Linked DNA regions of Homo sapiens. The protein of the gene in region 1 purifies or fractionates together with the protein of each later gene. This does not show direct contact. Each region holds a gene or a part of one and is shown on either strand. Other genes may lie near its edges. The genes, in order: CEACAM21, EFNB1, PCDHGC3, PCDHGA11, OAF, ABCB10 and KIDINS220.

Region 1 (3,500 bases):
GAAGCCATGGCCCCAGCTGTACCTTGGCCCTCTTTAGCCATGGCTGGAGTGGCTGGGATGCAGGGCACCAAGTCTCTAGGCCGCACACAGCAGGGGAGCCCTGGGCCTGGCCCAGGAAACATTTTTTCCTCCTAGGCCTCCAGTCCTGTGATGGAAGGGGCTTCCAGGAAGGTCTCTGACATGCCCTGGAGACATTTTTGCCATTGTCTTGGGGATTAACATTTTGCTCTTCATTGTTTATGCACATTTCTGCAGCTGGCTTGAATTTCTCCTCAGAAAATGGATTTTTCTTTTCTATTGCATCATCAGGCTGCAAATTTTCCAAACTTTTATGCTCTGCTTCCCTTTTAAACATAAGTTCCAATTCCAAACCATACCTTTGTAAATACATAAAACTGAGTGTTTTTAACAGTACCCAAGTCACATCTTGAACACTTTGCTGCTTAGAATTTTTTTTCCACCAGTTGCCCTAAATCATTTCCCTCAAGTTCAAAGTTCTGCAGATCTCTAGGGCAGGGGCAAAATACCACCAATCTCTTTTCTAGAGTATAACAAGAGTCACCTTTGTTCCAGTTCCCAAGAAGTTCCTCATCTCTGTCTGAGACCACCTCAGCTTGGACTTTATTGTCCATATCACTATCAGCGTTTTAATCAAAACCATTCAACAAGTCTCTAGGAAGTTTCAAACTTTTTTCCTGTGTCTTCTTCTGAGCCCTCCAAACTGTTCCAACCTCTGCCTGTTACCCAGTTCCAAAGTCACTTCCACATTTTCAGGTATCTTTATAGCAGCACTCCACTAGCTGGTACCAATTTACTGTATTAGTCCATTCTCACACTGCTAATGAAGACATACCTGAGACTTGGTAATGTATGAAGAAAGAGGTTTAATTGATTCACAATTCCACATGGCTGGAGAGGTCTCACAATCATGATGGAAGGTGAAAGGCATGTCTTACATGGCAGCAGGCAAGAGGACATGTGTAGGGAAGCTTCCCTTTATGAAACCATCTGATCTCCTGAGACTTATTCACTATCACAAGAACAGGATGGAAAAAACCCACCCTCATGATTCAATTACCTCCCACAAGGTCCCTCCCATAACACATGGGGATTATTACAATTCAAGGTGAGATTTGGGTGGGGATACAGAGCCTAACCATATCAATGGTGATGAACACCAAATACGTATTTCACAATATCACATACCCTTCTCCCTCAAGGCAATGGGAGGGTGAGAAAAGCTGCAGGTAGATTGATTCCCACTGTGCCTTCCATGTGGAAGGCCCCTGAAAACAGTCAATGAACATCATCCCTGCTCATCAGCATTGAGTTGGCAGCAAGGGCCTGCCCTTTACGACTGCCATGGGATGGAAAAAAAGAAACAGGGGGAAGAGGAGTGATGTGAGAGGAAGGAGGGACTAAAAAACACAGGAGCAGGATGAGGTGCAGGCTTCCTGTGGGAGAATGTAGGAGTTGATGCATCCCAGTAATTCAAGCCTAAGACACAGAAAATGGTGCAACCACGGAGAGCAAGGGAGCCAGCTATGAGGACAGCACAACAGACCACACTCAGGCTCCATGGCATTTCCTTCCTCCCTGACCATGCCCCTGCCCTGCAAGGCCCCTCATGGTTCCCCCTGGAACAGATTTGGACCTCATCCCCTTTGCCTTCTTCTTTCAGCAGATGACAACACTCTAGGCATCCTGATCGGGGTCCTGGTTGGGAGTCTTCTGGTGGCTGCACTTGTGTGTTTCCTGCTCCTCCGAAAAACTGGCAGGTACCACAGCTTTTCCCCATTCTGCTCCCATCCTTCACGCTGACCCCAGGCGAGAAGGAAGGAGACCCTGTCTTGTATTCAGTGCCAGGCTCTCCCCAGCCTCCCGACTCCCCAGGGATCCTTCCCTCTCATTCCATGGCACCTTCCTCACCAGCTGCTGACCCTGGGCTGCTTCCTCAACAGCTTTGTCCTCAGTGAATTCAGTCCAATTAAGGCCATGCCCCTGAGCATGGTCCTAGTTTCCTAGCACAGCAAAGCCACAGCTGCCTGGAGCAGGGGGGAGCGGTGCTCAATACCTGGTACCTCCCCCTGTTCACTGAATCCATCCACCCAGTGAGAGGGCATCTGAGGGGGGATCCTGGGCATCATCACATAGTGGAGACTGGAACAGCCTGGACGGGCTGGGTGGGGTCAGCACCCCTTTGACTGACATGGTAACTGCAGACACTGAGCTGTGAGAAGGGAGAACCGGGGCCCCAATATGGCATATCCTGGAATGTCGTTTATGTCTCTTGCCAAAGGGCAGAGACAGAAGACAAGATCATTGTCCCATTTCAGCATCTCCAGCCCTGAGTGGAGTGTCTGGTCACAGCAGGGACACTGAGTTCCAGGAGAATCCAAGATGCATGCAGTCCCCTCAGTGTCCTGCACATGTGCCTGGCCCTGCTTTCCCCCTGGTGCCTTGACCCTTCCTCTCAGGCAACCCCTGGTGGTCTGATTCCTTCCCTGGGTCCTCAGTCCCTTTCCTGTGTCACTGGATCAATGTTCTCCTGGCCCAGCATCTGCCTGAGAGTCCTTCCCCTCTGGCCAGGACAGATGTGGCTTTGTAAGGCCTTTCCTCAACTCCCCTCACCTGGGCCCCTCCTACCACAGAACTCCATAAAGAAAGGAGGTCTCCATACCCCTCTTGGAAATAGGCTCCTTTCCTGGTCCCCTATTTTAACTCCAATTTGTGACTTTTAACCTTGCACCTTCACAAATAACCCTGACCTTTCCTAGGGCCAGCGATCAGAGTGACTTCAGGGAGCAGCAGCCCCCAGCCTCCACCCCCGGTGAGTGTCCCTTCAGTCTGGGTGTGGCTGGGAACTACTAAGCCAGCCCCAAGTTGTCCACTCCTGCCAGTTACACCCAGGGGCCTCTGACCCTATCCCTGGGGCTGCAAAGAGGATCCCATAAAACATCACACAGGAAACCCCAACTGGCCGGGTCAGCCCTAACCTCCGGGCTCTGGGTCATGGGTCACTTCCTCAACCTCACTTGCTTACTTGACCCCTAAAATAACCTGAGAAAGGCTCCCTCTCCCCAATTCTCTAAGAACTGAGGACCCCCACACACTCTTGCAGGAGGGGCCCAGCTATCCTAACACTCTCGTGCTCACTTTTGTCTCTGTCCCCAGGCCATGGACCCTCTGACAGCTCCATCTCCTAGGTAAGACTGTCCGTTCCCAATCCCATTTCCACTGGGGCCCCAGCTGTGCAGGCTCAGGGCAGGGGGACTGTCAATCCCCAGCACAAACCCACCCTACCCAGAATGACTTGGATAAGGTTAGACCTGCCCTGGCCATGAGCTGGGCCTCTGTTCAGGGCCAGGATCATCCACTCCCTGTGCTAACCCCACCCTGGGACCCTCCATCACCTGAGGAGAGCCCTGGAATTCCTACACAGCAGGAATCCTTCCCTGTCCCCTGACACCCCTCTCTCCCCTGCCCAGATTCCCCTACCC
Region 2 (3,500 bases), on another chromosome or scaffold:
GATCAGATCCAGCAGGGTCTTAACTACATGCAATAGCATTGCACCACTTAGAAGCTCCCACTACTACAGGAGAGGAAAGAGTTAAGCCCAGGGAGAGAGCCAGAGGATGGGATGGGCGGGACTCACAGGTAATGTAGTAATCATGGTGCTTCTTGAACTCCAGGCCCATGTAGTTGGGGCTGAACTCCTGGAACTTGATGGTAAAGCGTATTTCCTGCTCTGGCCTATTGCAGGTGACCAACACGTTGGGGTCGAGAACTGTGCTACAGGCAGCTGCCTGCTCAGGCCGCACCAGGTACAGCTTGTAGTACTCATAGGGCCGCCCTGCTTCTGCTCGGGGGCAGATGATGTCCAGCTTGTCTCCAATTTTCGGATAGATCACCAAGCCCTTCCCACTCAGGAACCTGCCCAGAAGGAAGAAGATGGTCAGCCTCAGGGTTGGGGGTGGCCCCAGGCCATTCCAGAACCAGGGAAGCGGACAAGAGCCGGGCTGGGCCTACTGGGTGGAGATGGCAAGAGCAAGCCTTCTGCCCTTCCTCCATCCTCAGGCTGGGGGTGGGGAGAGAGAACCACACTACCAGGAGAGTGTGGAAGGGGTGGCCCATGGGCAAGGCTGCCAGGCTCTGACTGCTCGGCAGGGTGGAGCACTGCCTGGCTGGGGGAGCCCTTTGTCCTAATGTGGCATTTCCGCAGGGGGCTGACGTGGCCAATGGGCTGGGTACCAAGGTGTCAGGCCCATGCTACCTGGAGGTGGCAGTCTTATATACCCCCACCCCCAACAAAGATTCCTTCATGACCGCTGCTACTACCTCTCCTATACCCATACACACGTGCGCGCGCGCGCGCGCACACACACACACACACACACACACACACACACACACACACATACACACACACACAGCAAGCCCACACATGTCTTAGTCACCACTCCCCGCAGCTCCCAGCCAAAGGCTGGGGGAGCTCAATCTGTCTGGGACCCATGTCTTCTCCCCCATCCTTACTAATCTTGGTCATGATGGAAAGATAGGAACAGGCATCGCCTGGAGCAAAGGGATGATGGCCACAGTCTCTGGCCAGGTGCAGCTCTGCTCACTCCCACTGCCTATTGTCCTACTGGCAATTCATCCCACCCTCAAAATGCAAGAGCCTGAATTCCTAAACTTGATTCATCTCATTCTTAAAAAGAACAGAGGAGAAGAGAAGGGGCTCAACCAGAGACAACAGATCATAGAAGATAGGGCCTCATCTGTATCCTAACCTGTCACCTCTATGTTGCTCCTACTCCAGCTCCTGAGAGGAGATGGACAAATGCCTTTTGAGCCAGGTTCATATTCTAATCCAGAAGGCCAGGCACTGGGGGACAGCAGGGAGGGTCAGCAGCCCAGGACCACCTATCCATAGGACTCTGTCCTTGCCTAAGCACACAGAAAGAAAATGGTGCTCCATTGGCCATTTCTGAGACTGGATGGGCTGGTGCTGAGAGCAAGGCAGAACCATGTAGGAGAAAGAACACAGACTTTAGAATCAGATTCCAAAGCTAGGCCCTTACTAACTCTGTGACCTTGGATGAGCTGCCTGTTCTGAGCTTCAGTTTCTTCTCTTGTAAAGTGGGGGTGGCAAGAGCCCCTACCTTCCAATATTGTGGTGGGGAGACAAGGCAGCACATGGAGAACACCTAGCACACAATAGGCGTTCAACATGTTTGACTGCCTCTTAGAAGCAGTCTCCCAAGAGGCAGGAGGTCAGATACTAACACTAAGTACCTATGAGCTCACTCTCATATTTTGGAGGGGAAACAGGAAGAGAAGATATGGCTCCATCGTCAAGGACTTTACTGTCCAGTTTGGGTCAGAAAAGTAAATAACCCATACTCGAGTGATAGACAACACCAGGCTATCTGTAGGTATGTGTGAGGATGATGATTCAAGCAGCAAGGGCTGGAGGCAGGGAGAAGAAAGAGATAGCTCATCTGACCAGGATGGTCAGAGATGTATCCACAGGAAAGGCAGGATGAAAGTGGGTCTTAGGTGAGGAATAAGAAGTCAACACACTGAGACAGTAGACAGCAGTGGCTACAACACAAAGCCCAGGCCAGTGATTGGTCCAGCTTGGCTGGGAGTGAGAAGAGAGAAACAGAAGAAGAGGTGAAAAGTTCACCTGGGGCCAGACTGAAAGGCTTCAAGGGTCACAGCAAGCAGGGTGGGTTTCATCCCATTGGAGACAGGCTCTCAGAGCAGGAAGGACAATGGAAGGCTTCAGGCAGTGCTTAAAGAGAATGAAGCTGACAGTGTCATGCACCAGTTCACAGGCTACCACAATCATCTGAGAAAAGAGTGGTTCCATTTCCTGAGGGCCCATTACACCAAAGGTACTACAAGCAATACCGGCCTACTGGGAACTCTGGGCAAATGCCTTTGCAATGCCAAACCTGTGTCCTCATCTGAGGGAGGGAAATGATACCCAAGTAGGCGAAGAGGGAAACTGACCACATGGATGAAGTGGACGAAGAAAAGCAGCCTTTCCTCCATGTCGAGTGAGGCTCCACCAAATTGGGAGCTGCCATCTTGATGTGCAGGAGGGTAAAAGCCAGAATGAGATGGCCTCCCCACTGGTACCTAACTATAGAGGGCCCAGAAAGGAAGTAGGCATGGGATGGAAGCCTGGATAAACATTTCAGATGGAATACCCCTGTCCCATGCACCATACAAAGCCAACAAGTTTCCCCAAAGCCTCTAGAATTCTCCAGGCATTTTTTCCCTTTCCAGTGCTCACAACGGTTCCATCCAGATGGCAGGATTAGACAACTGCTCACATCTTAGAGCCAGCAGGAACCTTAGAGTCCAGGCCCTTCATGTGAGGGAATGAATGATCAGATGAATGTTCCCATTGAAAAGAGGGGTCTAAACCTACCCAGGACAATAACCCGATGGGTCTAAGAGGCCCTAAAACATTACCTGAATCCTTGTACTGTTGCATCTTAACAACACATATATATGCAGCTACATAGAGGGCACGGAAAGGGAGACAGGCCAGCTCAGCTTTCTAACCACTCGGTTCTGGCTTACTCACCAGGGAGTCCTGTCTACCCCAAGTGCAGTCTCCCATTGCCACCCAGGTTCCAGAGCCCTGGAATTGGAACAGGGCTTCTAGCTAATTGGGGTTCTACCTTGAAGCCAGAGGCATTGAGGAAACAGATGTCTACATGATGGAGGAGGGGGGAGAAGAGAGAACTATTGCCCCCAAAACCCCTCAGAGTCTCTTCAACCTCAGTGAACAGACTTCATAAATATTCATTAGTTCATTTGCATGGCAGCTGGCAGAGGGAAACTCACCTTCCCCTGAAGTGCAGAAGGGAGCGGAGCCTGATGAGACCCGCCTTCCCTGACCCTGATCCCCCATACTGGTAACCTTAGCATCTTCCCGACCACTGGGCAAACCTCGTCTTGACCTGTCAGAAGCTCAAGAGAGTGGTAACGGGCCATAAGGGATGGGTGTAT
Region 3 (3,500 bases), on another chromosome or scaffold:
TTCCCCCATCCTGCAACCAACCAAACCCTTGTTGCCACAAGGACCCAGGAGCCCTTGGTGTATGGCAGAGATTCCAGCTTCTGGGCATGCACAGTCCTGTCACCCATTTTAGGAACGCAAAGCGCTTCTTAGAAGGCCCCTAAAAAGCAGCAGATCAAAAGGCTTGGGCTGCCCTTGCCCTTCCTTTGACCCCAGCTGTTGTCCTTCTCCCTGCTGGCCTTGCCAACCTTCTCATAAGTTATCCATTAAGTCATTAATGTATTCATTCGTTCATTTATTCAACAAATATTTATCGAGCATCTACTATGAGCAGGGCCCTGTGCTAAACATTGGGCTATAGGAGTGAACAAGTAGATGTGATCCCAGAACTCATAGGCTTCCAGACCAGCAGAGGAGACTGAAAATTTGCAACAAGTAACACTTAAAAAAAAAAAAAAAGGCTGGGCACTGTGGTTCACGCCTGTAATCCCAGCACTTTGGGAGGCCAAGGTGGGTAGATCACTTGAGGTCAGGGGTTTGAGACCAGCCTGGCAGCCAACATGGTGAAACCCCATCTCGATTAAAAATACAAAAATTAGCCAGGCGTGGTGGCAGGCACCTGTAATCCCAGCGACTTAGGAGGCTGAGGCAGAACTGCTTGAACCCGGAAGGCAGAGGTTGCAGTGAGCTGAGATCACGAAAAAAAAATAATCTAGCCACAAATCACAGTAAGTTCTGAGAGGCAGAGAACAATGTGAGTGTAATGGGGGGGGGAAGATCAGAGAAGGCTTCTAGGAGGAGGTGACATTGAGAAGTTCTAGGCCATTTATGTTCCCTCTACCTACCACCACCCCAGGCCATACACTGGCTTTGAAGCAGAATTCACCATTGAACCTGGAAGCCCCACCAACTGCCTCTCATGTGTCCTCTGGGGTGAGCACCTTACCCCTGCCTCAACTCCCATTCCATCAAATGAGAGGCTTAGTGGCCTGGAATACATGTGGGAGCTCTTGGAGATATGGAGGAGAAGGTGCGGAACCTCTCTCTCTCTCCTCTCTCTGCTTCCTTAGTTAACTTGTGGAGGATGCAACAAACCTTTTTTTTTTTTTTTTTTAGACAGAGTCTTGCTCTGTTGCCCAAGCTGGAGTGCAGTGGTGCGATCTTGGCTCACTGCAACCTCTGCCTGCCAGGTTCAAGCGATTCTCCTGCCTCAGCCTCCCGAGTAGCTGGGACAGCAGGTGTGCACCACCACACCCAGCTCATTTTTGTATTTTTAGTAGAGATGGGTTTCGCCACGTTGGCCAGGCTGGTTTCAAACTCCCCGACCTCAACTGATCCACCTGCTTCAGCTTCCCAAAGTGCTAGAATTACAGGTGTGATCGCCCCCGGCCACAACAAACATTTTTGATTCAGCGGCTCCAAAGTGAAATAAGCGTTAGGATCTAGTCCAGTAACTTCAACTTCTCTCCTTCATTCATTCAACAAATGGTCAGTGAGCACTTTCTGTTGGCCAGGCAGTGTTCTCGATGTGGGAGGCCCCTGCCCTCAAGGAGTTTACAGTGCACTGAAGGAGACAAATATTGACCAAATAATTACAAAAATAAATGTGAGACTGAAACTGTCATAAGTGCTAGGTAGAATTGTATCTGGTGGTGTGGGCGTATAATAGGGATTTGATTTAGGGAGCAGGAGGACATCCTGGAAATGAAGTTGTGCTGAGATCTGAAAGACAAATACAAATTAACCAGCTAAAGAAAAGAAGGAAGAGCATTCCAGATGGTCAGGCATACCAGCTTCAAAGCAGGGCTGGTGTTGAGTTCTTCAGTAAACTTGGTTCAAGATCAAGCCAGCTCTGGGTCACACTGCCTACACAGAAGGAAGAGCATTCCAAATGGGAAAAGCCTATGCAAAAGCCTTGTGGTGAGGCCTCCTGGGATCAAGGGAATGGCAGGGAGTTTTCTCTTTGCTGGCACTGGAGTGAGGGGATGAAGAGGAGAGGTTCCTTTTATCCAGTCTAACCCTGGTTCCAGCCTTCTGTTGATGCCCTGCCTCACTCCCTCCCCACCATCTTGCCCACTGCCCTCCAGCCTGGTCTGGTCAGACACACCAGCTTCAAAGCAGGGCTAGTATTGAGTTCTTCAGTAAACTTGGTTCAAGTTCAAGTCAGCACTGGGTCACACTGCCTAGACAGAAGGAAGAAGACCTGGCCAGGTGTGGTGGCTCACGCCTGTAATCCCAGCACTTTGGGAGGCTGAGGTGGGTGGATCACCTGAGGTCAGGAGTTTGAGACCAGCCTGGCCAACATGATGAAACCCCATCTCTAGTAAAAATACAAAATATTAGCCAGGTGTGGTGGTGCACACCTGTAGTCCCAGCTACTCAGGAGGCTGAGGCAGGGGAATCGCTTGAACCCAGGAGGCGGAGGTTGCAGTGAGCTGAGATCACACCACTGCACTCCAGTCTGGGTGACAGAGCGAGACTCCATCAGGAAAGAAAGAAAGAAAAAGAGAGAGAGGGAGGGAGGGAGGGAAGGAAGGAAGGAAGGAAGGAAGGAAGGAAGGAAGGAAGGAAGGAAGGAAGGAAGAAAAGAAAGAAAAAGGGAGAAAAAATGAAGAAGACTTACATTCTGAAGTTCCTGCTTGGCACATGCTTCTCCTCCCCACCACTATCCCTTCTCAGGTCATCCTTTGGGTGTCTGATCCCAATAGCTGTTGTCTCAAGCTCTGAGCCCAGCAAACCATTTCCCCCTTCTTAGGCTGTAACCCAGGCCCTGCCCTGCAGCTGTCCCCAGCCTCTGCACAAAGAGTCTCCATTTGGTCCCTAGACTGTTCTCTGATGGCTCCACACTACCATCCCTCCTCTGAGAGACAGTATCCCTGCTCTCTCTCAGTTTGGGCAGTCATTCAACAAACAAATAGCAACTTAATTTTTTTCCACTTATAAAATAGTACATGCTCATTATAGAAACATGAAAAATAGAAAAAAAATTAAAAGGAAAACCACCCATCATTTTACAATCTAGGGAGAACCACCACCAACTACAGTTTAATATGAAACATTTCAAATATGTACAAAAGTAGAGAGAATGGTGTCATGAACCTGTATGATACCACTATCCAGCTTCAACTAATGCCTTATCTTGTTTCACCTATATCCCTACCCTTATCCTGTCCTTGGATTCTTTTGAAGCAAATCTCAGACATCATATAATTTCATCTTGGTCTCCACCATCTTTAACAGATGACTTTTTTTTTTTTTTTTTTTTTTGGAGACAGAGTCTCACTCTCTTGCCCAGGCTGTGGCACAATCTCAGCTCACTGCAGCCTTCGCCTCCCGGGTTCAAGCAATTCTCATGCTTCAGCCTCCTAAGTAGCTAGGATTACAGGTGTGCACCACCACACACAGCTAATATTTTGTATTTTCAGTACAAACAGGGTTTCGCCATGTTGGCCAGGCTGGTCTTGAACTCCTGGCCTCAAGTGATCCACCCTCCTCGGCCTCCCAAAATGTTGGGATTACAG
Region 4 (3,500 bases), on another chromosome or scaffold:
CTAAAAATACAAAAATTAGCTGGGCGTGGTGGCGCGTGCCTGTAGTCCCAGCTACTCAGGAGGCTGAGGCAGGAGAATTGCTTGAACCCAGGAGGTGGAGCTTGCAGTGAGCCGAGATGGCGCCACTGCACCCCAGCCTGGAGACAGAGCGAGACTGTCTCAAAAAAAAAAAATTGTAAATGAATGTGTATGTTTTCTAATGTAGCAAAAGCCCATTAGCATTAGAAAAATAATATGTATATTCATATGAGGACTTATTCTGTAAAATAATATGTATATTCATAAGAGGAGTTACTCTGCAAATGACTTGGGAAGAATTTTGAAAGACATGGGGAAATTCTCATGATACACTGCAAAGAAGAAAAAAGCTATAATTCTGTTGGACAGTATGGCCTCAGTTGCTATTTTTAAAAAACTAGTAGGAAATGTACCGTATGACTGGGAATAACAGTTCTTAATATGTGAATAAAGTGTCACATGAAAGTGTGACAAGTTTGTGAACAACTTATTTAGGTGAATGAGATTTTTTTAAAATGAAGCTCGGCCAGGCGCGGTGGCTCACGCCTGTAATCCCAGCACTTTGGGAGGCCGAGGCGGGCGGATCACGAGGTCAGGAGATCGAGACCATCCTGGCTAACACGGTGAAACCCCGTCTCTACTAAAAATACAAAATAATTAGCCGGGCGTGGTAGTGGGCGCCTGTAGTCCCAGCTATTCTGGAGGCTGAGGCAGGAGCATGGCGTGAACCTGGGAGGCGGAGCTTGCAGTGAGCCGAGATTGCGCCACTGCAGTCCAGCCTGGGTGACAGAGCAAGGCTACGTATCAATAAATAAATAAATAAATAAATAAATAAATAAATAAATAAAAATAAAAATGAAGCTCATGCATGTTCTTTGATTACACAAAGAAAAGTTTAGAAAGATATATATGAAAAGGCAGGGATTCAACAAATAAATTGCAAAAATGGAAGATGGAGGGGAAGTCTTTTACATTAAAAGAGCATTAAGATACTTAAGAGACACTCACTCAAATATAAAATGTGGACCTTATGAAAGAATCATCTGGCCGGGCAAGGTGGCTCACACCTGTAATCCCAACATTTTGGGAGGCCGAGGAGGGTGGATCACTTGAGGCCAGGAGTTCAAGACCAGCCTGGCCAACATGGCGAAACCCTGTTTGTACTGAAAATACAAAATATTAGCTGTGTGTGGTGGTGCACACCTGTAATCCTAGCTACTTAGGAGGCTGAAGCATGAGAATTGCTTGAACCCGGGAGGCGAAGGCTGCAGTGAGCTGAGATTGTGCCACAGCCTGGGCAAGAGAGTGAGACTCTGTCTCCAAAAAAAAAAAAAAAAAAAAAAGTCATCTGTTAAAGATGGTGGAGACCAAGATGAAATTATATGATGTCTGAGATTTGCTTCAAAAGAATCCAAGGACAGGATAAGGGTAGGGATATAGGTGAAACAAGATAAGGCATTAGTTGAAGCTGGATAGTGGTATCATACAGGTTCATGACACCATTCTCTCTACTTTTGTACATATTTGAAATGTTTCATATTAAACTGTAGTTGGTGGTGGTTCTCCCTAGATTGTAAAATGATGGGTGGTTTTCCTTTTAATTTTTTTTCTATTTTTCATGTTTCTATAATGAGCATGTACTATTTTATAAGTGGAAAAAAATTAAGTTGCTATTTGTTTGTTGAATGACTGCCCAAACTGAGAGAGAGCAGGGATACTGTCTCTCAGAGGAGGGATGGTAGTGTGGAGCCATCAGAGAACAGTCTAGGGACCAAATGGAGACTCTTTGTGCAGAGGCTGGGGACAGCTGCAGGGCAGGGCCTGGGTTACAGCCTAAGAAGGGGGAAATGGTTTGCTGGGCTCAGAGCTTGAGACAACAGCTATTGGGATCAGACACCCAAAGGATGACCTGAGAAGGGATAGTGGTGGGGAGGAGAAGCATGTGCCAAGCAGGAACTTCAGAATGTAAGTCTTCTTCATTTTTTCTCCCTTTTTCTTTCTTTTCTTCCTTCCTTCCTTCCTTCCTTCCTTCCTTCCTTCCTTCCTTCCTTCCTTCCTTCCCTCCCTCCCTCCCTCTCTCTCTTTTTCTTTCTTTCTTTCCTGATGGAGTCTCGCTCTGTCACCCAGACTGGAGTGCAGTGGTGTGATCTCAGCTCACTGCAACCTCCGCCTCCTGGGTTCAAGCGATTCCCCTGCCTCAGCCTCCTGAGTAGCTGGGACTACAGGTGTGCACCACCACACCTGGCTAATATTTTGTATTTTTACTAGAGATGGGGTTTCATCATGTTGGCCAGGCTGGTCTCAAACTCCTGACCTCAGGTGATCCACCCACCTCAGCCTCCCAAAGTGCTGGGATTACAGGCGTGAGCCACCACACCTGGCCAGGTCTTCTTCCTTCTGTCTAGGCAGTGTGACCCAGTGCTGACTTGAACTTGAACCAAGTTTACTGAAGAACTCAATACTAGCCCTGCTTTGAAGCTGGTGTGTCTGACCAGACCAGGCTGGAGGGCAGTGGGCAAGATGGTGGGGAGGGAGTGAGGCAGGGCATCAACAGAAGGCTGGAACCAGGGTTAGACTGGATAAAAGGAACCTCTCCTCTTCATCCCCTCACTCCAGTGCCAGCAAAGAGAAAACTCCCTGCCATTCCCTTGATCCCAGGAGGCCTCACCACAAGGCTTTTGCATAGGCTTTTCCCATTTGGAATGCTCTTCCTTCTGTGTAGGCAGTGTGACCCAGAGCTGGCTTGATCTTGAACCAAGTTTACTGAAGAACTCAACACCAGCCCTGCTTTGAAGCTGGTATGCCTGACCATCTGGAATGCTCTTCCTTCTTTTCTTTAGCTGGTTAATTTGTATTTGTCTTTCAGATCTCAGCACAACTTCATTTCCAGGATGTCCTCCTGCTCCCTAAATCAAATCCCTATTATACGCCCACACCACCAGATACAATTCTACCTAGCACTTATGACAGTTTCAGTCTCACATTTATTTTTGTAATTATTTGGTCAATATTTGTCTCCTTCAGTGCACTGTAAACTCCTTGAGGGCAGGGGCCTCCCACATCGAGAACACTGCCTGGCCAACAGAAAGTGCTCACTGACCATTTGTTGAATGAATGAAGGAGAGAAGTTGAAGTTACTGGACTAGATCCTAACGCTTATTTCACTTTGGAGCCGCTGAATCAAAAATGTTTGTTGTGGCCGGGGGCGATCACACCTGTAATTCTAGCACTTTGGGAAGCTGAAGCAGGTGGATCAGTTGAGGTCGGGGAGTTTGAAACCAGCCTGGCCAACGTGGCGAAACCCATCTCTACTAAAAATACAAAAATGAGCTGGGTGTGGTGGTGCACACCTGCTGTCCCAGCTACTCGGGAGGCTGAGGCAGGAGAATCGCTTGAACCTGGCAGGCAGAGGTTGCAGTGAGCCAAGATCGCACCACTGCACTCCAGCTTGGGCAACAGAGCAAGACTCTGTCTAAAAAAAA
Region 5 (3,500 bases), on another chromosome or scaffold:
ACTCCTCATTGGCCCTTGACAGTTAAAGGATGGAGGGCTTTCCAGCAATGAGGCATTTACAGAAGACAGCCAGGCATGAGTCTCCCAGTGCCCCCACCCAATCATCCCTCCATGCTACTATCACCCGAGTGGCCGAATGCCCTTCAAGGGCTCCCTTTGTCCTCACCAGAAAGCCTAACCCCAGAGCCTGGCATCCCAGGTCCCTGCTCACAGCAACTGTTGCACTTCCCATGCACTGAACCGGAGAGCTTGTAGTTCCCAGAATGAGCGATGCTGTGTCACCCCTAGGCCTTTCTGTGAGCAGGTTCTTCTGCCGGGATGCCCTGTGCTCAGCTGTCTCAGCTGTGCCTTGTGTGCAGGGCACAGCTCACAAACGACCCTCCTCTGACTGCCCTCCCAGTGCTGCCCTCACCAGCCCTTCTGCAGAGTTGGCCAATCCCAGTCGCTGCCTCTAGAGCACAAATCCCACTGTTTACTCCCACTGTGTTTTTGCTGACCTCTTTACTTGTCTTTCTTTCCAGACTCAACTTCTTGAGCCAGGAAAAGTGGCTTGCTTGAAGTGCATCCCTGCCCCCTGGAACACAGCAGGTGCTCAATAAACATCTGATAAGGAATACATGAAGGGTGAATGAACAACAGCATGGAAGAGTTCTCTGAGAAAAGCGGTGGGAATGTACTAGGGGAGGAGGGGAAGGGTCGTGAGTGCTGATGAGGCTGGCAAGGGGTCAGGACACAAGCAGGACGCAGGGTCTGAACCAGGCTGAGGAGTGGGAGGCTTCCTCTTGTGCCTCTCTGGAAGTCACTGGTGGGTTTGAGCCTGGGGTGACATGAGGGACCTGTGGTTTGGAGCTGAATCAGACTCTGCCTGAGGTTGTGAGAGTGCCTTGGATCTCAGTGCCCCAGTCAGATGGTCTCTGTCCTCATGGAGCACCTTCTGCCCAGGCAGTTAGTCATCCAAGCCCTCTGTGACCTGCCTCTGGCTCAAGAGCAGCGACTCTAGCCTATTCACATGGTGACCCTGGGGTCTGTCGCACAGCTGGGGCTCAATGCTTAGTAGCTGGAGGAACGAATGAATGCTCTAGGGCCTCCATCAACCCACTGGCCTCCAATGTGCAGACACTCTTTCTTCTCGGCCTTGCCTGCAGCTGGGCTCCTGCAGGCTGATAGTGCTACAGCTGCTATTTTGGCATCTAGAAGGTTTAGGGGATCATCTAGTTCATGGCCCAGTGAGGTTCCAGCAGGGAAGTAACCTTCATGAGTCACACAGTGGCAGAGCCAGGGCCAGAAGCCTAGACCTCCTGACTCTGAGTCCAGTGATCTTCATGCTTGTCCTGGCTCCCCTCCGTAGCCCTTGTCCAGATACTCAATTCCTCCCTGTGCCCATCCCAGCCATGCTGTCTGACTGGGATCCACCTGTGTCTCCAGAGGGAAGGCTGCTCTGGTTCAGCTGCACTGGGGGAATGCGCTGAGAGACGGCAGAGCACCCCTGGGCAGACATCCTGTGCTCAGCACTGAGGGTGGGGAGGGAGCCCCTGGATCCCAGGGGATAGCGGGGCTGTCACACCAGCCCTGACTGGCTTCCAGACTCAGATAACACTGGGAAGAATGAAACAGGCTGTTTTGCCACGGCCTCAGCCGCTGTTCCTGGGGGTTTATGTTGCTCACGGCTGAGCCTAATCTCAACTGATGCACAGGCTCACACGGCTTCCCCATTCGCGCACACCGTCCTCTTTCACAGACAAGCTGGGTCTCAGTCTCCTTCCCGCAAGGTCTCCCAGTGGCTCCTGTTCCACATTCCCATTCCCTCCACAGGGGTGCATCTGGGCCTGTCTCCTCCCTCAGTCTCCCTGTTGCCGGCAGAGGCGGCTCCCCACCGTCTCATCACACCCCTCTCCGCAGTCCCCACGCCCACCCCCCCTGTGAATTCCCCATCTCATGCCCAGCGTCAGGGCACACCCCGCATCACCCTCCTCACTTGCTCGATTCTCCTCACACGCCTCCTCCCGATGCCACTTCTCATAACGTGTGTACACACACACACACACGTGTACATGCGTGCATGTGCAGGCACACACTCTTACCGCATGTCATCACCTTGCTCCAGCCTGCCCGGTCTCCTCTGGCACCCTGCCTTCCCATCACGGTCCCTAGCTGGCCCCACTCTCCAGGCGCTCTTCCTCAGCCCCTCCCCAGAAAGCCCTGGGGTTTGGGGGGAGGCCCGCCTGCAGGAGAATGGAAAGCAAAGGGGGCCAGGGCAGCAGACTGCCCCTTCCCTCCACACCCTGCTTCCAGCCACCACTGTCCAGTGCTGGTCATGGCCCAGGCTGCAGGTCATCGCTCTAGGGCCACACAAGCCACTTGGCCCCCTCCCATTCTTCCAACCCTCTTGCTCCTGGACAGCTGGCGCTCTCTCCTGGGAGTGTCCTCTGCCATCTTGGTCTCCTTCCTGTCACACCAGAGAGCATGATTCTGGGGCCCAGGCTGAGCCAATCTAAATATTTATTCCTCTGCTCCTGGCTGGGGCTGCTTTATGGCTAGAGAAGTGGCTGGCTTCGCTGGGCTGGGGAGGGGAGAGGGGGTTTAGCCTGCAGAGCCAGCCAGGAAGCAGTGCCTTCCTAGCCCCACGGCAAAGCTGGAAGCACCCTGGCTGCTCTGCCCAGGCTTCTCGAGCAGGAACGGGGTGGATGGATTCCACCCAGAGCCAGGCCACGCACATCCCGAGGCCAGTGCCCAGGGACCTAGGCCGCCCCATGATGAGATGCCAGCATCCCCTCAGGGCTAGGCCTGGACAGAGGCTGCTTGTCTTGGGGCATTAGCACAACCACTCACCCAGAGCAGTGCTCCTGCCCCCAGCCCCTCCCCAGAGCAGTGCTCCTGCCCCCAGCCCCTCCCCAGAGCAGTGCTCTGTCAGCCGAATCCCAAAGGTCACCACTGTCCTGACTGCTGCAGGAACAATGTGAGGCTTTATGTGGATCAACTGCGCCCCACTGTGCTGCTGACTCAGTGCTCCTGAGACGGGTCTCCATGCTTCCCTCTCACCCGCACTCCCAGCCCTGATGCCTCTCCCTGCCCTTTATCTGAATCCCTAGTGGCAGCCACTTCAACACTTGCCAACTTCAAGGATGTTAGCTCCTCATGATGCTTTGGTCCCTACAGCAGAAAAGCAGCAGCTGCAGCAACATGCTTAACGGTGGGGTAGACGGACATCCAAGCGGGCACTGGCACCTCACTCCTCACATGCCCACGCGGGCCTCTGTTCTGCGAAGGGCCTCTTAGTCACTGCGCACACTGAACCCCAAGCATCACACTGTTGTCTCTGGTGTACCGGCAAGGAGCCTGGGGCTCAGAGAGGTTAAGTGACTTGCCAAGTCACACAGTGGGTAAGTGGCAGGAAAAAACGTACATAGTGATTGCTCACTAGTGTCTGTGAGATATTTTCTTTTCTTTTTTTTTGAGATGGAGTCTCACTCTGTTGCCCAGGCTGGAGTGCAACGGCGTGA
Region 6 (3,500 bases), on another chromosome or scaffold:
ATGGGGGACAGAGCGAGACTCCATCTCAAAAAAAAAAAAAAGAAAAAAAAAGAAAATGAGGCCCCTGGCCATGAAGCTGGACTTCTGAGGCTTCCTGAAGGCTTCAGAAACCCATTTACATGCCCCATGCTTGTGTTTCTCCTTAAGTAGCAGCTGGGATGATAACTTTGTTAGTATTTCTCTGAAGAGGTCTTGTTTTTACAGGCAGGTCACTGCCACAATAATGAGAGAACCTGGGACACCAACTCGAAGTCTGTTGCTCTCCATTTATCTCTGTGGATAATTAACCAATTCTTGCCATTTGAAGGTTCAATACAGGAAAGGGTTTCCAGGGAGGAACAAAATGAGCTTTTGGAAGTTAATGTAATAAAACTTCTTTGTAAATAATACCTTAAAAAAATCTCGGCCAAGTGTGGTGGCTCATGCCTGTAATCCTAGCACTTTGGGAGGCTGAGGCAGGAGGATTGCTTGAGCCCATGAGTTTGAGACCAGCCTGAGCTACATAGCAAGACTCCGTCTATATAAAAAATAAAAATAAGTTAGCTGGGTGTAGTGGCGGACATCTGTAGTTTCAGCTACCCAGGAGGCTGAGGTGGGAGGATGGCTTGAGCCCACAAGGTTGAGGTTACAGTGAACTGTGATCGTGCCACTTCATTCAGGCCTGGGTGATAGAGCAAGACCCAGTCTCTTAAAAAAAAAAAAAAAGTAAAAATAAAAAAGGCCTCTGAGTCATGTTATATTTATTTTATTCCTGTATCCTCTCACTAGCGCCCACAGTCTGTAGTTAATAAGAGAAAAGTAGTGTTAGTAGTGCATGACAGTTAATGTGCCTGGTTTGGGAAAGTCTCTTTCCACCCATGGGATACAGTGCAGCAGACACGCTCAGAGGCTGCATTGCTCAGGAGGGTTACAACTCCAGGCCAAGCTGCTGCACAGTAAGTGGCTGCCCCATAATGGTAATGGATGTCTTTACCCTTGGTGAGCCTGTTCGTGTTTGCTTTTGCAGGTCAGCGCATTGTGAATAGGCTGAGAACTTCATTATTCTCCTCCATTCTGAGGCAGGAGGTTGCTTTCTTTGACAAGACTCGCACAGGAGAATTGATTAACCGCCTCTCATCAGACACTGCACTCCTGGGGCGCTCAGTGACTGAAAACCTCTCAGATGGGCTCAGGGCCGGGGCCCAGGCTTCCGTAGGCATCAGTATGATGGTATGTGGGCCTGGTTCCCCTTGGTACCTTCCTGCCAGGGCTTGGCTTGCACCAGGCCTCTCACGTGTGAGACGAGCTCAAGCTGAGCGGTTCGCATCATTCTGTAAGTGCCTAGAGCCAAAAGTGCTGTTGCAGAAGCTGCTGGAACGTGGGGATTGCCTCTGCCTGCATGGCCTCTTGTACCTTCATTTCTCCAGAATGAGTGATTATCTGGAAAATGGACTCATGTGTTACTGCTGGGTATTCTGAGATGTGTGTACCCGGGGTATTAAGGCAGAAAAGAGCATCAGGTAGAAGGAGCACTGGGTACTACCCTGTGGGTGGCACCAAGCGGTGACTAAATTCCATTCCTCTGTGTGTGTAAGTCGAACTGTGCTCTTTTAAGGGGAGAGCTCTTCACTCCCATGGCCTTTTTTCCTTTCCTTAACTGGGTGGCTTGTGCCTGTCCTGTCTGCTTGCCTTACCTCTTCAACCAGTATTTCTATTCAGCCCAGTGCTGCAGGTCATTGGAGAGGCAATGCAAGCCACATATGTGATTTTAATGTTTTAGTAGCCACATTTAAAAAAGCAAAAAGAAGCCAATGAGATTAATTTTTTTTTTAATTTTAATTTTTTTAGAGACAGTCTCACTCTGTTACCCAGGCTGGAGTACAGTGGCAAGATCATAGCTCACTGCAGTCTTAAACTCCTGGGCTCAAGTGATTCTCCCACCTCAGTCTCCCAAGTATCTGGGACTACAGGCACACACCACCAAGTCTGGCTAATTTAAAGAATATATATATATATTTTTTGTAGAGGCAGGGTCTCTCTATGTTGCCCAGGCTGGTCTCAAACTCTTGGCCTCAAGTGATCCTCCTGCCTCGGCCTCCTGAAGTGCTGGGATTACAGGCTTGAGCCACTGTACCTGGCTGAGATTAATTTTAATAATGTTTTGTTTAAGCCAGTATAAACAAAATATTGTCATCTCAAGATGTAATTAATATCAAAATTATTAATGAGGTATTTTATATTATTTCTTTCATATTATAGTTGACCCTTGAACAATGCAGGGGTTGGGACACTGAAGCCCACACAGTCAAAAATCAAAGTATAACTTTTGACTCCCTAAAAACTCAACTACTAATAGCCTACTGTTGACCAGAAGCCTTACTGATAACATTAACAGTCAATTACCATGTATTTGGTATATGTATTATATACTATGTTCTTATAACAGAGTAAGCTAGAAAAAAGAAATGGTATTAAGAAAATCATAAGGAAGGTAAAATATATTTATTATTTATTAAGTGGAAGTGGATCATCATAAAAGCTTTTTTTTTTTTTTTTTGAGACGGAGTATCGCACTGTCATCCGGGCTGAAGTGCAATGGCACGATCTTGGCTCACTGCAACCTCCTCCTCCCGGGTTCAAGTGATTCTCCTGCCTCAGCCTCCCGAGTAGCTGGGATTATAGGTGCCAGCCACCACGCCTCGCTAATTTTTTTGTATTTTTAGTAGAGATGGGGTTTCACTATGTTGGCCAGGCTGGTCTTGAACTCCTGACCTCGTGATCTGCCTGCCTCAGCCTCCCAAAGTGTTGGGATTGCTGGCGTGAGCCACTGCGCCCGGCTCATCACAAAAGTATTTATCCTCATTGTCTTCACACTGAGTAGACTGAGAGGAGGAAGAAAGGTTGTTCTTGCTGTCTCAGGGGTGGCAGAGATGGAAGAAAATCTATGTATAAGTTGACCCATGCATTTCAGACCAATGTTGTTCAAAGGTCAACTGAATTTCCAAATCTGGTGTGTATTCTCTACTTAAGGAACATCTTAATTCGGATGCTAAATTTTCATTGAAAGTACTTGATCTATATTTAGATTTTATAAAATGTACAATTGAAAAAGTAGTTTGACATACTCAAGTTTTCCAGACATACTTAATAGTTTGCCAATAACTGAATGGAGTATAGGCTTTTAAATTTTAATTAAACCTAAATACAATTAAAAAGTCAATGTCTCAGTCATACCTGCCACATTTCAAGTTTCCAGTAGGGCTATCGTTTTGGGCAGTGCAGTTCTAGACTCGTGGAATAAGAACTGTAAATAATCCTTTCTCACAAGTGGAAAAGCTTGGATTCTGTCCTTTGTGTCCCATGAAGCACTTAGAGAGGAAGGGTGTGTTGCCTATTAGATCTGACTTACGGAATGAAAAACAGCTTTGAAATCTCATGATTTTCCAGCTAAGAGAGAAGCAAACCTCTGGAAGAGGACCCTTCCTGCACTAACATGCCGTTTTCCAAATATGAATAGTTTT
Region 7 (3,500 bases), on another chromosome or scaffold:
AAAAAATAAATAAATAAAAATAAAATAAAATTAATAATCTAAGCTTCCACCTCAGGAAACTAGAAAAAGAGCAAATTAAATCCAAAGTAATCAGAAGAAAAGAAATAATAAAAACTAAAACAGAAATAAAACAATGAAACCAAAAGCTAGTTAGTTCAAAAGATAAACACAATCAATAAGCCTTGGACTAACTAAGATGAAAGAAGAGGAAACACAAATTCAGAAAAACAACAAATAAAAGAGAGGCTACCACTTTAGACCTACCTCATGGACAAAAATAGGATAATAAAGGGATACTACAAACAACTCTATGCCCACAAATTTGATAACTTAGATAAACAGACCAGTTCTTTCAAAGACATAATTTGCCAAAATTCACAAGAACAGGCCTATATCTATTGAAGAAATTGCATCAATAATAATTTTTCAAAACAGAAAGCACCAGGCCCAGAGGGTTCACTAATGAAGTCTACCAAGCACTTACAGAAGAAATTATACCAACTCTACATAGGATCTTTCAGAAGACAGAAGCAAAGGGAATGCTTCCTAACTCATGCTATGAAGTCAGCATCACCCTAATACCCAAAGCAGACGAAGTCTTGACAAGAAAAGCAAACTACAAACCAATAAATATCTCATGAGCATAGATGCAAAAAACCTCAACAAAATATTAGAAAATCATATGCAAAATGTATAAAAAGAATTATACACCACAATCAAGTGAGATTTATGCCAGGTAGGTAGGGCCGGTTCCACATTCAAAAATCAATTAATGTAATCCATCACTTCAACAGACTAGGCTGGGCACAATGGCTCATGCCTGTAATCCCAGCACTTTGGGAGGCCGAGGAGGGAGGGTGGATCACCTGAGGTCAGGAGTTCAAGACCAGCCTGATCAACACGGTGAAACTCCGTCTCTACTAAAAATACAAAATTAGCTGGGCATGCTGTTGCATGCCTGTAATCTCACCTACTTGGGAGGCTGAGGCAGGAGAATCACTTGAACCCGTAAGGTGGAGGTTGTAGTGAGCTGAGATGGCACCACTGCACTCCAGCCTGGGCAACAAGAGTAAAACTCCGTCTCAAAAAAAAAAAAAGAAACAGGCTAAAGAAGAAAGATCACATGATTGCATAATTAGATAAAGCAAAAGCATTTGACAAAATCCAACACCATTTATGGTAGAAACTCTCAGTAAACTAGAAATAGAGAGGAACTTCTTCAACTTGATAAAGAGTATCTGTAGTTAACATCATACTTAATGGTGAGAACATGAAAACATCTACTAAGATCAGGAACGAGGCAAGATTGTCCCTTTTCTTACCACTCCTTTTCAACATAGTACTGCAAGTCCTAACTAATGCAATAAAACAAACAAACAAAAAGGAAATAAAAGGTATGAAGACTGGGAAGAAAGAAAGAAAACTGTCTTAGTTCACAGATGACTTGACTCTCTATGTAGAAAAACCGAAAGAACCACAATGAAAAAAAACTCCTGGGACTAACAAACAATTATAGCAAGATTTCAGATTAATACAAAAGTTGATCACTTTCCTATATATCAGCGTCAAACATGAAATTAAGAACACAATTACTATATATATTAACACTGCAAAAAACGAAATAGGTATAAATCTAACAAAATATGTATAAGATCTATATGAGAAAAACCACAAAACTCTTGAAAGAAATCAAGGAAGAACTAAATAAATGAGGAGATATTCCATGTTCATGGGTAGGAAGACTCAATACTTGACCTAAAGATTTAACGCAATCTCAATGAAAATCCCAGCAAGTTATTCAAGGTGAATCAAAAGTTCATATGAGGAGAAAAAGACCCAGAATAGCCAACACAGTATTGAAGGAGGAGAACAAAATAGGAGGACTGACACTACCCAACTTCAAGAAAATAGAGCTAGAGTAATCAAACAGTGTGGTATGCGCAAACGAACAGACAAAGAGAAAGAGCCCAGAAACAGACCTACACAAATATAGTCAATTGATCTTTGACAAGCGGCAAAGGCAATACAATGCAAGAAATAGCGTTTTTAACAAATGGTGCTGGAACAACTGGAAACAAAAAAAAAAAAAGAAAAGAAGCAAGGAAGCAAGAAAGCAAGCAAGAAAAGAATCTAGACACATTCACACTTCACAAAAATTAACTCAAAATAGCTCACAGACCTAAATGCAAAAGTATAAAACACCTAGAAAATGACAGAGGATAAAATCTAGGTGACCGTAGGTTTGGTGTTAACTTTTTAGATAGGACACTAAAAGCAAGATCCATGAAAGAAAGAATTAGTAAGCTAGACTTCATCAAAAATGTCTGCTCTGCAAAAGACACTGTCAAGAGAATGAAAAGCAACCAAAAGAATGGAGCAAAATATTTGCAAAAAGCTTATCTGATAAAGGACCATTAGCCAAAATACACAAAGAACTCTTAAAACTCAACAATAAGAAAATGAACAACCTGACTGAAAAATAAGCCAAGACCTTCACAGCCAATTCACCAAAGAAGACATACAGATAGCAAATAAGCACATGAAAATATGCTCCACAACATGTGTAATCAGGGAAATGCAAATTCAAACAATAAGATACCACTGCACACCTAACAGAATGGCCAAAATCCAGAACACCAATAATACCAAATGCTGGTGAGGATGTGATGTGGAGCAACAGGAGCCTCATTCATTTCTGGTGGGAATGCAAAATAGCCACCTCAGAACAGTCTGGTTGTTTCTAACAAAACGAAACATCATACAATCTAGCAATCACACTCCTTGGTATTTACCCAAAGGAGTTTTCAAATCCTTTATGTTCACACAAAAGCCTGTCCACAAAAGTTTATAGCAGCTTTATTCATACTTGCCAAAACTTGGAAGCAATAAAGATGTCCTTCAGTAGATAAATGTATAAATGAACTGTGATATATCCAGACAATGGCACATTAGCCATGCTAAAAAGAAATGAGCTAGCAGGTCATGAAAAGACATGAAGGGCACTTAAATGCATATGACTACGTGAAAGAAGCCAATCTGAAAAGACTACACATGTATGATTCAACTATATGACATTCTGGAAAGGGCAAAACTATGGCGATAGTAAAAAGAAATGGTAGCCAGGGGTTAGGGAGGAGGGTGGAGGGAGGGGTGAACAGGTGTGAAGAGGTGAAGCACAGAAGATTTTGAGGGCAATAAATCTACTCTGTATAAGACTATAATGGTGGATACATGTTATACATTTGTCCAAGCCCACAGAATGTACCACACCAAGAGTGAACCCTACTGTAAACTATGGATGCTGGGTGATTATGATGTGTCAGCCTAAGTTCATCAATTGTAACAAATGTACTGCTCTGGTGGGTAATCGTGCCAATTGGGGAGGCTGTGTATGTGTGGGGGAAGTGGGTATATGGGATATCTTTGCACTTCCCTCTAAATTTTACCGTGAACTTAAAACTACCTTAAATTATAGTCTTGAATGAACGAATGAATGAATG

Evidence for each region.
Region 2: the proteins of CEACAM21 (region 1) and EFNB1 purify together in Homo sapiens (affinity purification with mass spectrometry; 3 studies listed by BioGRID and IntAct, with this or other methods). This does not show direct contact.
Region 3: the proteins of CEACAM21 (region 1) and PCDHGC3 purify together in Homo sapiens (affinity purification with mass spectrometry; 3 studies listed by BioGRID and IntAct, with this or other methods). This does not show direct contact.
Region 4: the proteins of CEACAM21 (region 1) and PCDHGA11 purify together in Homo sapiens (affinity purification with mass spectrometry; 3 studies listed by BioGRID and IntAct, with this or other methods). This does not show direct contact.
Region 5: the proteins of CEACAM21 (region 1) and OAF purify together in Homo sapiens (affinity purification with mass spectrometry; 3 studies listed by BioGRID and IntAct, with this or other methods). This does not show direct contact.
Region 6: the proteins of CEACAM21 (region 1) and ABCB10 purify together in Homo sapiens (affinity purification with mass spectrometry; 4 studies listed by BioGRID and IntAct, with this or other methods). This does not show direct contact.
Region 7: the proteins of CEACAM21 (region 1) and KIDINS220 purify together in Homo sapiens (affinity purification with mass spectrometry; 3 studies listed by BioGRID and IntAct, with this or other methods). This does not show direct contact.

Annotation. Positions count from the first base shown.
Region 1 is NC_000019.10:41,582,666-41,586,165, forward strand, and holds part of CEACAM21 (cell adhesion molecule CEACAM21 isoform 1 precursor), read left to right. Parts: intron 1-1,681; coding exon 1,682-1,778; intron 1,779-2,777; coding exon 2,778-2,830; intron 2,831-3,174; coding exon 3,175-3,206; intron 3,207-3,488; exon of another isoform or gene 3,489-3,500.
Region 2 is NC_000023.11:68,835,521-68,839,020, reverse strand, and holds part of EFNB1 (ephrin-B1 precursor), read right to left. Parts: intron 405-3,500; coding exon 127-404; intron 1-126. UniProt on the Homo sapiens protein: Cell surface transmembrane ligand for Eph receptors, a family of receptor tyrosine kinases which are crucial for migration, repulsion and adhesion during neuronal, vascular and epithelial development.
Region 3 is NC_000005.10:141,496,466-141,499,965, forward strand, and holds part of PCDHGC3 (protocadherin gamma-C3 isoform 1 precursor), read left to right. Parts: intron 1-3,500. UniProt on the Homo sapiens protein: Potential calcium-dependent cell-adhesion protein. May be involved in the establishment and maintenance of specific neuronal connections in the brain.
Region 4 is NC_000005.10:141,497,551-141,501,050, reverse strand, and holds part of PCDHGA11 (protocadherin gamma-A11 isoform 1 precursor), read right to left. Parts: intron 1-3,500. UniProt on the Homo sapiens protein: Potential calcium-dependent cell-adhesion protein. May be involved in the establishment and maintenance of specific neuronal connections in the brain.
Region 5 is NC_000011.10:120,217,532-120,221,031, reverse strand, and holds part of OAF (out at first protein homolog precursor), read right to left. Parts: intron 1-3,500.
Region 6 is NC_000001.11:229,545,208-229,548,707, reverse strand, and holds part of ABCB10 (ATP-binding cassette sub-family B member 10, mitochondrial), read left to right. Parts: intron 1-1,006; coding exon 1,007-1,209; intron 1,210-3,500.
Region 7 is NC_000002.12:8,782,114-8,785,613, forward strand, and holds part of KIDINS220 (kinase D-interacting substrate of 220 kDa), read right to left. Parts: intron 1-3,500. UniProt on the Homo sapiens protein: Promotes a prolonged MAP-kinase signaling by neurotrophins through activation of a Rap1-dependent mechanism. Provides a docking site for the CRKL-C3G complex, resulting in Rap1-dependent sustained ERK activation.